2 linked regions of the Homo sapiens genome follow. The protein of the gene in region 1 interacts with the protein of each later gene in a pairwise test. Each region holds a gene or a part of one and is shown in the gene's direction. Other genes may lie near its edges.

The links. The genes of interacting proteins can lie anywhere in the genome.
Region 2: the proteins of MPZ (region 1) and PINX1 interact in a two-hybrid assay, tested with the Homo sapiens proteins (one large-scale study listed by IntAct).

Annotation. Positions count from the first base shown.
Region 1 is NC_000001.11:161,307,694-161,311,650, reverse strand, and holds the start of MPZ (myelin protein P0 isoform MPZ precursor), read left to right. Parts: upstream 1-1,682; 5' UTR 1,683-1,715; coding exon of another isoform or gene 1,716-1,745; coding exon 1,746-1,812; intron 1,813-3,957. UniProt on the Homo sapiens protein: Is an adhesion molecule necessary for normal myelination in the peripheral nervous system. It mediates adhesion between adjacent myelin wraps and ultimately drives myelin compaction.
Region 2 is NC_000008.11:10,829,876-10,833,375, reverse strand, and holds part of PINX1 (PIN2/TERF1-interacting telomerase inhibitor 1), read left to right. Parts: intron 1-391; coding exon 392-484; intron 485-1,632; coding exon 1,633-1,711; intron 1,712-3,500. UniProt on the Homo sapiens protein: Microtubule-binding protein essential for faithful chromosome segregation. Mediates TRF1 and TERT accumulation in nucleolus and enhances TRF1 binding to telomeres. Inhibits telomerase activity. May inhibit cell proliferation and act as tumor suppressor.

The DNA of each region.
Region 1 (3,957 bases):
AGGTTCTCATGATGTACCAAATTGAATTCACCTTCTTTCACCTGTCATTTAAGGCCTTTCACAAACTGGTTTCGACTTTCCTGTCCAGTCTCATTTCTGACTATGCCACTTCAAGTTTCCCCAAATCAAGTCAAAGTGGATGGCACAAGATCGGCCCTGAATATATCCAACACTTCAGAAACCTACATCTCATATACATACACACACACACACACACACACACACACACACACACACACACACACACACACATTCTGTCTCTCCGTCTCACCTCTTTGTCCTTGCTTTTGCTGTTCTATCTTCTGGTAACCCTCCCTATCTCCCTTTCCAAAATGACAGTCATCCTTCAAGGCTGATTCATATCTAACATTGCCTCCTAGACACAACTATTCTTCCCTCTGAACTATTTATTTGTTTGATTATTTATTTATTTATTTATTTTTGAGACAGAGTTTCATTCTGTAGCCCAGGGTGGAAAGCAGTGGCACAATCATAGCTCGCTGCAGCCTTGATTTCCCAGGTTCAAGCGATCTTCCTGCCTCAGCCTCCCAAGTAGCTGGGACTACAAGCATGTGATAACATGCCCAGCTGATTTTTTAAAAAATTTTGGTAGAGGCGAGGTCTTGCTATGTTGCCCAGACAGGTCTCAAACTCCTAAACTCAAGCAATCCTCCTGCATAAGCCTACCAAAGTGCTGAGATTACAGGTGTCAGCCACTATGCCTGGCATAAACTTCATTTATTAAAGTTTATTTTGTCTTTAATCTCTCATATAACTTAGTCTTCCTGATATTGCAGCTGTGTGTGCCCCTCTTTTGTACTCCCAGCATTTTGTTCATTACTAAAGGAAGTGTCATGGCTTATTATACTTGATTGTTGATGGGTTTGTCCTCTGATCTTCCCATCTCCACCTCCCCAAACCAAATTTTCAACTCCTTGCTGGAAGGACTTAATTTTTATTCCTCTCTCTATTACCTGCATTCTCATACTTTACATATTGCTGGCACTTAATACAATTTTGTAGCCTTGAAATAAATTGAAATGGACTTAAACAGCAGCATGAAGCACTGAAGGACTTCTTGACAAACGGAAAGGTCAGGGGCTTCTTGCCTGGAAATAGTCCAGTGGAGAAAAACTTCTGTCTGGGAAGAATCGCACAGGATGAAGGGAGGTGCGGGGAAAAAAACTCCCATAGGACTTGGTCATCTCAAGAAGTCTGTAATGCAGCCCACATTAGAGGAGATAACAGGGGATATCCTATTTTCAGAGTTCTCTGGGGGAAACCTCCCTCTAGTTCCTAGGGCTGTGAGGCAGCCTCTCTCAGGCAAGGAGGCTGAGGAGAAATCCCTTTTTATGGCCTTTAAATTGAGGTTCCATATCTATCCCTCAGAGAAGTGTGTCTGTGTCCCTGTTTTTGTCCCTCTCCCTCACCACCCCCCACAACATTCCAGCCTGGGGCAGGGGGAGGCCAGTGGACACAAAGCCCTCTGTGTATGGGGTGGTATGTGTCCCCCCACCCCTCCACCCAGACTATACAATGCCCCTTCTGCTCCCTGCACTCTGCCCCCCTCCCCACCACCTCTCAACTGCACATGCCAGGCTGCAATTGGTTACTGGCTGAGGACAGCCCCCTCATGCTGGGGCCCTAGGGGATTTTAAGCAGGTTCCAGGAACCCCCCGTTCAGTTCCTGGTCCCCCACTTTCTCAACCCCACAGATGCTCCGGGCCCCTGCCCCTGCCCCAGCTATGGCTCCTGGGGCTCCCTCATCCAGCCCCAGCCCTATCCTGGCTGTGCTGCTCTTCTCTTCTTTGGGTAAGTGGAGCCACTCTACTCTGGGAGTCTTGGGACTCAGGTGTCTCTCAGCAATCCCCACAGCCTTTGCTGCACTCCCCACTGCAACCAAAGAAAGAACAAGCAGGAGCAGGAAGGTGACATTATATTCAGAAAGAAAAAATATGCGGCTGGGCATGGTGGCTCATGCCTGTAATCCCAGCACTTTGGGAGGCCAAGGTGGGATAATTATTTGAGCCCCAGGAGTTGGAGACCAGCCTGGACAACATAACCAGACTCCATCTGTAAAATTCAAAAAAAAAAAAAATATATATATATATATATGAAAAGAAAAAAATATGCATTTAGAGGGAGGAAGTAGAGGTTTTATTTTAAAAGAAAGGGTAAAAGAGAGTGTAGCAAGCTTCCCTGAGTGGTGGCCATGGCTGGACCCAGGTTGGAAATAGTAGCATGCCCCCAGAGCCATGCTAACAGCCTGGTGGGAAGCAGTGTTAGATTACATAAAGAAATAGGCTCAAACACCTGGGTTTGGTTCCCACTCGTCCCCTAGCAGTGCAGGAGGTGCCTTAACCTTAGTTTCCCAGAAGGAAAAAGAGAGTGCGATCTAAGTAAGGAGCCCAGGTTTGTGGTCTCAGCTCCTCAGATTTTTTGTCTCTCTATGGCTCCTCACCTGTTGTGTGGGTGAATGGAGTGAGGTTCTATGAGATTCTGGGATCTTATCCCTCTAAAGCTGTCTTCCTTCATAAGCTGACCAGCCCTTTCCTTGCCCCCTGGCAGATGTTGGGTGAGTAAGAGGTCAAAGCAGGATTATTGGAATGGCCCCTTCCCTTCTCTGAACTGCCCTGAATCCTAGTGCAATGAGTGAGCCATAGGCAAGTGGGGGTGGTGGGGAGGACATCAAGGGAAAGGGGGCTGGCCAGAATGCCCAGGGTTCTCTGCTGTCAGCTGCTTGAGCCCTAGACTCTTCTGGGTTGTACTGGGCTATTTGGGGGTACCCTGAGAAAATGTTAAAGATAGAGAGTTGGAGAAGGGCATAGTGAGGGAAATAGGGGGAAGGAATCTTGATGTATAAGGAAGAGGGAGAGTTGTGTCTCAACACTTGTTCCACTCATAGAACCATTGAGCACAGCTGAGAAGGGCAATGGTTGATATTGTAACAGGAGGAATAGAAGTTAGAGCCAGTGAATTATCTCCCTTGTTAAACAAGGGGGATTCCCAAGAAGGTTCTAAGGTGGAAGTTCCAGAAGGTAAGTACATGGTATTGCATGCTGAGGTGAGAGATTCAGGACAGTTGGGGTGGGAGTAGGGGTGGCATGAGCCCCCCAGCGTTGGTCAGACAATGGAACTTTGTTTGGTTGCCACCTCCCCCTCCTGTAGAACAAAAAGGTCTACAGTTGCCCCTCCCTGGGGCCAGCCCACACACATAGTCTCTCTGGAATGACCTTCCTTGTGTGGGTAAGTCTTGGGGATGGCACTGGGCCACAGTGGCCAAGAGGAAGGTGAGGACAGTTGAACCATAGAGGGCTCACATGTAGGGTCATCTGAGCTGTAGGCTTGGGGTGTTGCTCTGCACCCAGCTGAGAGGGGTATGAGGCCCTTCCCTTCCTGACTCTCCAGTCAAGAGCAAGCTGTATGGCAACCAGGGATTCAGCAATGAGGACAGTTGTGCCAGGGAAGAAGACTTATATTTTCTAGTTATCTTCATTTTTTTCTGCAAGAAATCTGAGTTTGCTGTATTGTGAAATCCAATGCAGCTGTTAAAATAAGATTGATATCTATGAATCAACAGGGAAAGCTCCTCCAGATACGTAAGTTCTTAAGCAAAAAGACACTAGAATACAATGCAATATGTATGTGGAAAAAAAAACTCCACAAAACTATTTGTTGTAAGTATGTGTATATCTTGAGTTTATTGAGTTTATACTGAGTTTGATTCATATTAAATGGATAACTTGTTACATCTTGGAAGGGAATACAGGAAAGGAATTTGTTGGGCTAAGTGTCAAAGGAGACTTTTGTTTTATTTCTATTGCTTGAATAGTTTATAAGAAGAGTACAATATGTATTACCTGTATAATTTATAATAAATTTTAAAAATTTAGAACACTGCATCTAAAGGATAGCTTAAAAGTTAGATACTGACCCAAAGGAGAAGTGAGACTTAAA
Region 2 (3,500 bases), on another chromosome or scaffold:
AAAGACCAGTGGTTTTCCATTGTCTTTAAAATAAAATCCAAATTCCTCCCGTAGGTTATGTGAGATCTAGCCCCTCCGTCATCCTACTTCCTTCATTCCTTAATTTGCAGAAGCCACCCTGGGTGCCTCTGAGGTTTCCCAGTACACTGAGTTTTTTCCCACCTTCGGGTCTTTGCACTTGATCTTTCCTTACCTGGAAAATCTTACAGATGAGTGCTAATTGATGCAGAGGACTTAGAGTCCTCCCCCATGTTGCTTTGTGAAAGTATTTAATGGAGAGAATCATCAACTCAGAACACCTGCCGTAGGCATCTGTGAGTTTTGTAGCAGTGCTCTGCTTCTGAGTATCAGTGAGAGGAATGTTCTAACTCTCTGTGTTTAATCTCCACAGGGTTTAGGGGCTCAGGAGCAAGGAGCCACAGATCATATTAAAGTTCAAGTGAAAAATAACCACCTGGGACTCGGAGCTACCATCAATAATGAAGTGAGCAGCAGTGTGTGCCTCCTGGGTGTCTTTGCATAATTGGCTTCAGTCTTGTAAATCTGAAAGTTGATTGGTTCATCTGCTTCTGACCATTGGTGCAGCACTTCTTTTTATTCACGTTTCCTCTTGAACACTGACGCTTTGAATGCATGGCACTATAACTCAGAGTCAGTGGCCTACCGCGCTTTTTATTTTTAGTATCATTGTTCCCTTTTGGAAAGGATCTAAACTGAAAAGTTTTGTTTCTAAGTTTTTGCAGCCAACATAATCTGGTAGGGAATCTGGGAAATTACTTTAGGTAAATTGAATTACTTTGGTTAGTTCCGTATCTCTGAGTAGTGGATTGGCGGAGCTAAAATTTTTAGCCACTAAAGAAAGAGTTTATATAAAGTTGATTTCAAATGTAGTTGTTGAGGGATAGATAACACAGATATACTTATTTTCTTAGAAGAAGCATTGCCCAGTAAACCTATTTCATATTCCTTTACCTTAAGCATTCTTAAAAATTGCTAAGAATGTGAGTAAGGCAGATTCGTACACTGAAACCCTGCTTCCCACTGGTTTGGGAGATCTTCATTCTCTTATAAAAGCCAGGTTCATTTTTTTATAATAAACTTATTAGGTAACCACCTTACAAATGGGAACTCATCGATTCAGGGGACTTAAGGTTCTTCCTCCTCCCCTTCCTCAGAGTTTTGTAAAATTGGAGTTGATGCAAGTCATTAGAAGATTTTAATTCTACCAAGCAAAGAAGAGCATTTTTTTGTCCCGCATGGTTCTTGTCCTTTCAACTATGGAATTTCCCCTAGTGAGAAAAAAATAGTCATTTCATTATGTTTTACTTTAACATTTAGCACACAGGTTGCCTGTTGATTATTTACTATATATTGACTTGATCGATAAGTCATTCACATTTGAAATCAGGCCTTAAGCTTCCAGGAAGCCCCTTTTTAATATTGACCTGGATAAAGAGCATTTTAACTTTATATTATTTCTTGAATCCACTTAAATTTATCAAATAGTATTTTGATGGAACATTTAAAATTTCTTAATTAACCACTGGATTTCCTTGATTCCAAAATGTATCATCTCAGTCAGTGTAAGTAAACTACAGGCTTACCTCTCGTTCATTTCTTTGATATTTTCAGGACAACTGGATTGCCCATCAGGATGATTTTAACCAGCTTCTGGCCGAACTGAACACTTGCCATGGGCAGGAAACCACAGGTAGGGAAATCAGATGACATAAGTTCTCAATGCAAATATGTTTATCTACTTTTTGTTTTTTGCTTTTATTATTTTTAGTTGACACATAATTATACATATTTATTGAGTATAGTGTGATATGTCAATACCTGTGCACAATTTGTAATGTACACATGTGTTATGTTCATCAACGTAATTAGCATATATATCACTTCAGACATTTATTATTTGTGTTGGGAGCATTTAAAATCTGTTCTTCTAGCTATTTGAAAATATAAAATAAAATATTATTTATTATAGTCACCCTACAGTGCTATAGAACACTAGAGCTTTTTCCTCTTATGTAGTGGGACTTTTATATCCATTAGCCAATCTTTAGCTGTTCCTACATAGCTGTTTTCCTTACGCAGCTCTAATAACCACTATTCTGCTGTCTACTTTTATGAGCTCAACTCTTTTAGCTTTTCCATATGAACGAGAATATGTGATATTTATCTGTGCCTGGCTTATTTCACTTAATGTCCTCCAAACTCAACCATGTTGCCTCAAATGAAAAACTCTCATTCTTTCGTAAGGGTAAATAGTATTCCGTGGTGTGTATGCACCACATGTTTCCCAGTTCATGTGTTGGTGGACACTTAGGTTGATTCCATATCTTGGCTGTTGTGAATAGTGCTGCAGTGAACGTGGGTTTGCAGGTACCTCTGCAACATGCTGATTTCCTTTCCTTTGGGTAATGCCTGGGAGTGGATTGCTGGATCATATAGTAGTTCTATTTTTAACTTTTTGAGGAGCTGCCGTACTGTTTTCTGTAGTGGCTACATCAACAGTGCATAAGAGTTCCAATTTCTCCATATCCTAACCAGTAATTATCTTTTATAATTTTGATAATAGCCATCCTAATGGGTGTGAGATGATGTCTCATTGTGATTTGGATTTCCATTTCCCTAATGACTGATGTTAAGCATCTTTTCATCGCTTATTGGCCATTTTTATATCTTCTTTGAAGAAGTGTCTAAGTACTTTGCCCATTTTTTAATTGGATTTTGTTGTAATCTGCAAGCATTTTTATAAACATTCTTGTTTATGAACAGTCTATTCCTTGTGTGTCATGTGTGAATAATCAAAAGATATTTGGTAGATTGAAAGAATTTTGTGGAGTGAAATAATGAATTAGACTTGAGTTCAGCAAACATTTATTGAGCTGTGTGCTGGGTACTAGTTTAGGTGTGAGGATCTGCAGAGGTATAAGACACAGTCCTGCTTGGAGGTAGCTAGCAGAATATGCTGGTAATTACCTGGTAAAATCACAGCACACATCTAACCATAGGAAGGTTTATTGCAGTGACGTGTGTGGAAGTGAGCCCAACAGTGTGAAGGGAAAGGTGCTTTGTTGGTATTTTTTCTAACCAGATTGGACTTTTTGTTGGAATGTATAACTTGGACAGTTTTCCTTATCCATAGGATCATGATTTTGAAATAACCTAACAGTTCTGTGTGTGGTCCTAATATGAAGGGCAATAATTTATTAGCAGAAGAAAAAGATAAGGAAAATGTTTTCTGAAAATACTGAATGACTCATATTAGGAAATGCAGGATCTATGAAGTAGTAAAGTTCAAGGACACTATTCCTTACTAATTATACACAGAAAACATCTTGATATTTACGATCACAGTTGAACTCAGTAGAAACACAGATAAGAATGTAAGCTTGGCTGGGCACGGTGTAATACCAGCACTTTGGGAGGCTGAGGCGGGCGGATCACCTGAGGTCGGGAGTTTGAGACCAGCCTGACCAACATGGAGAAAC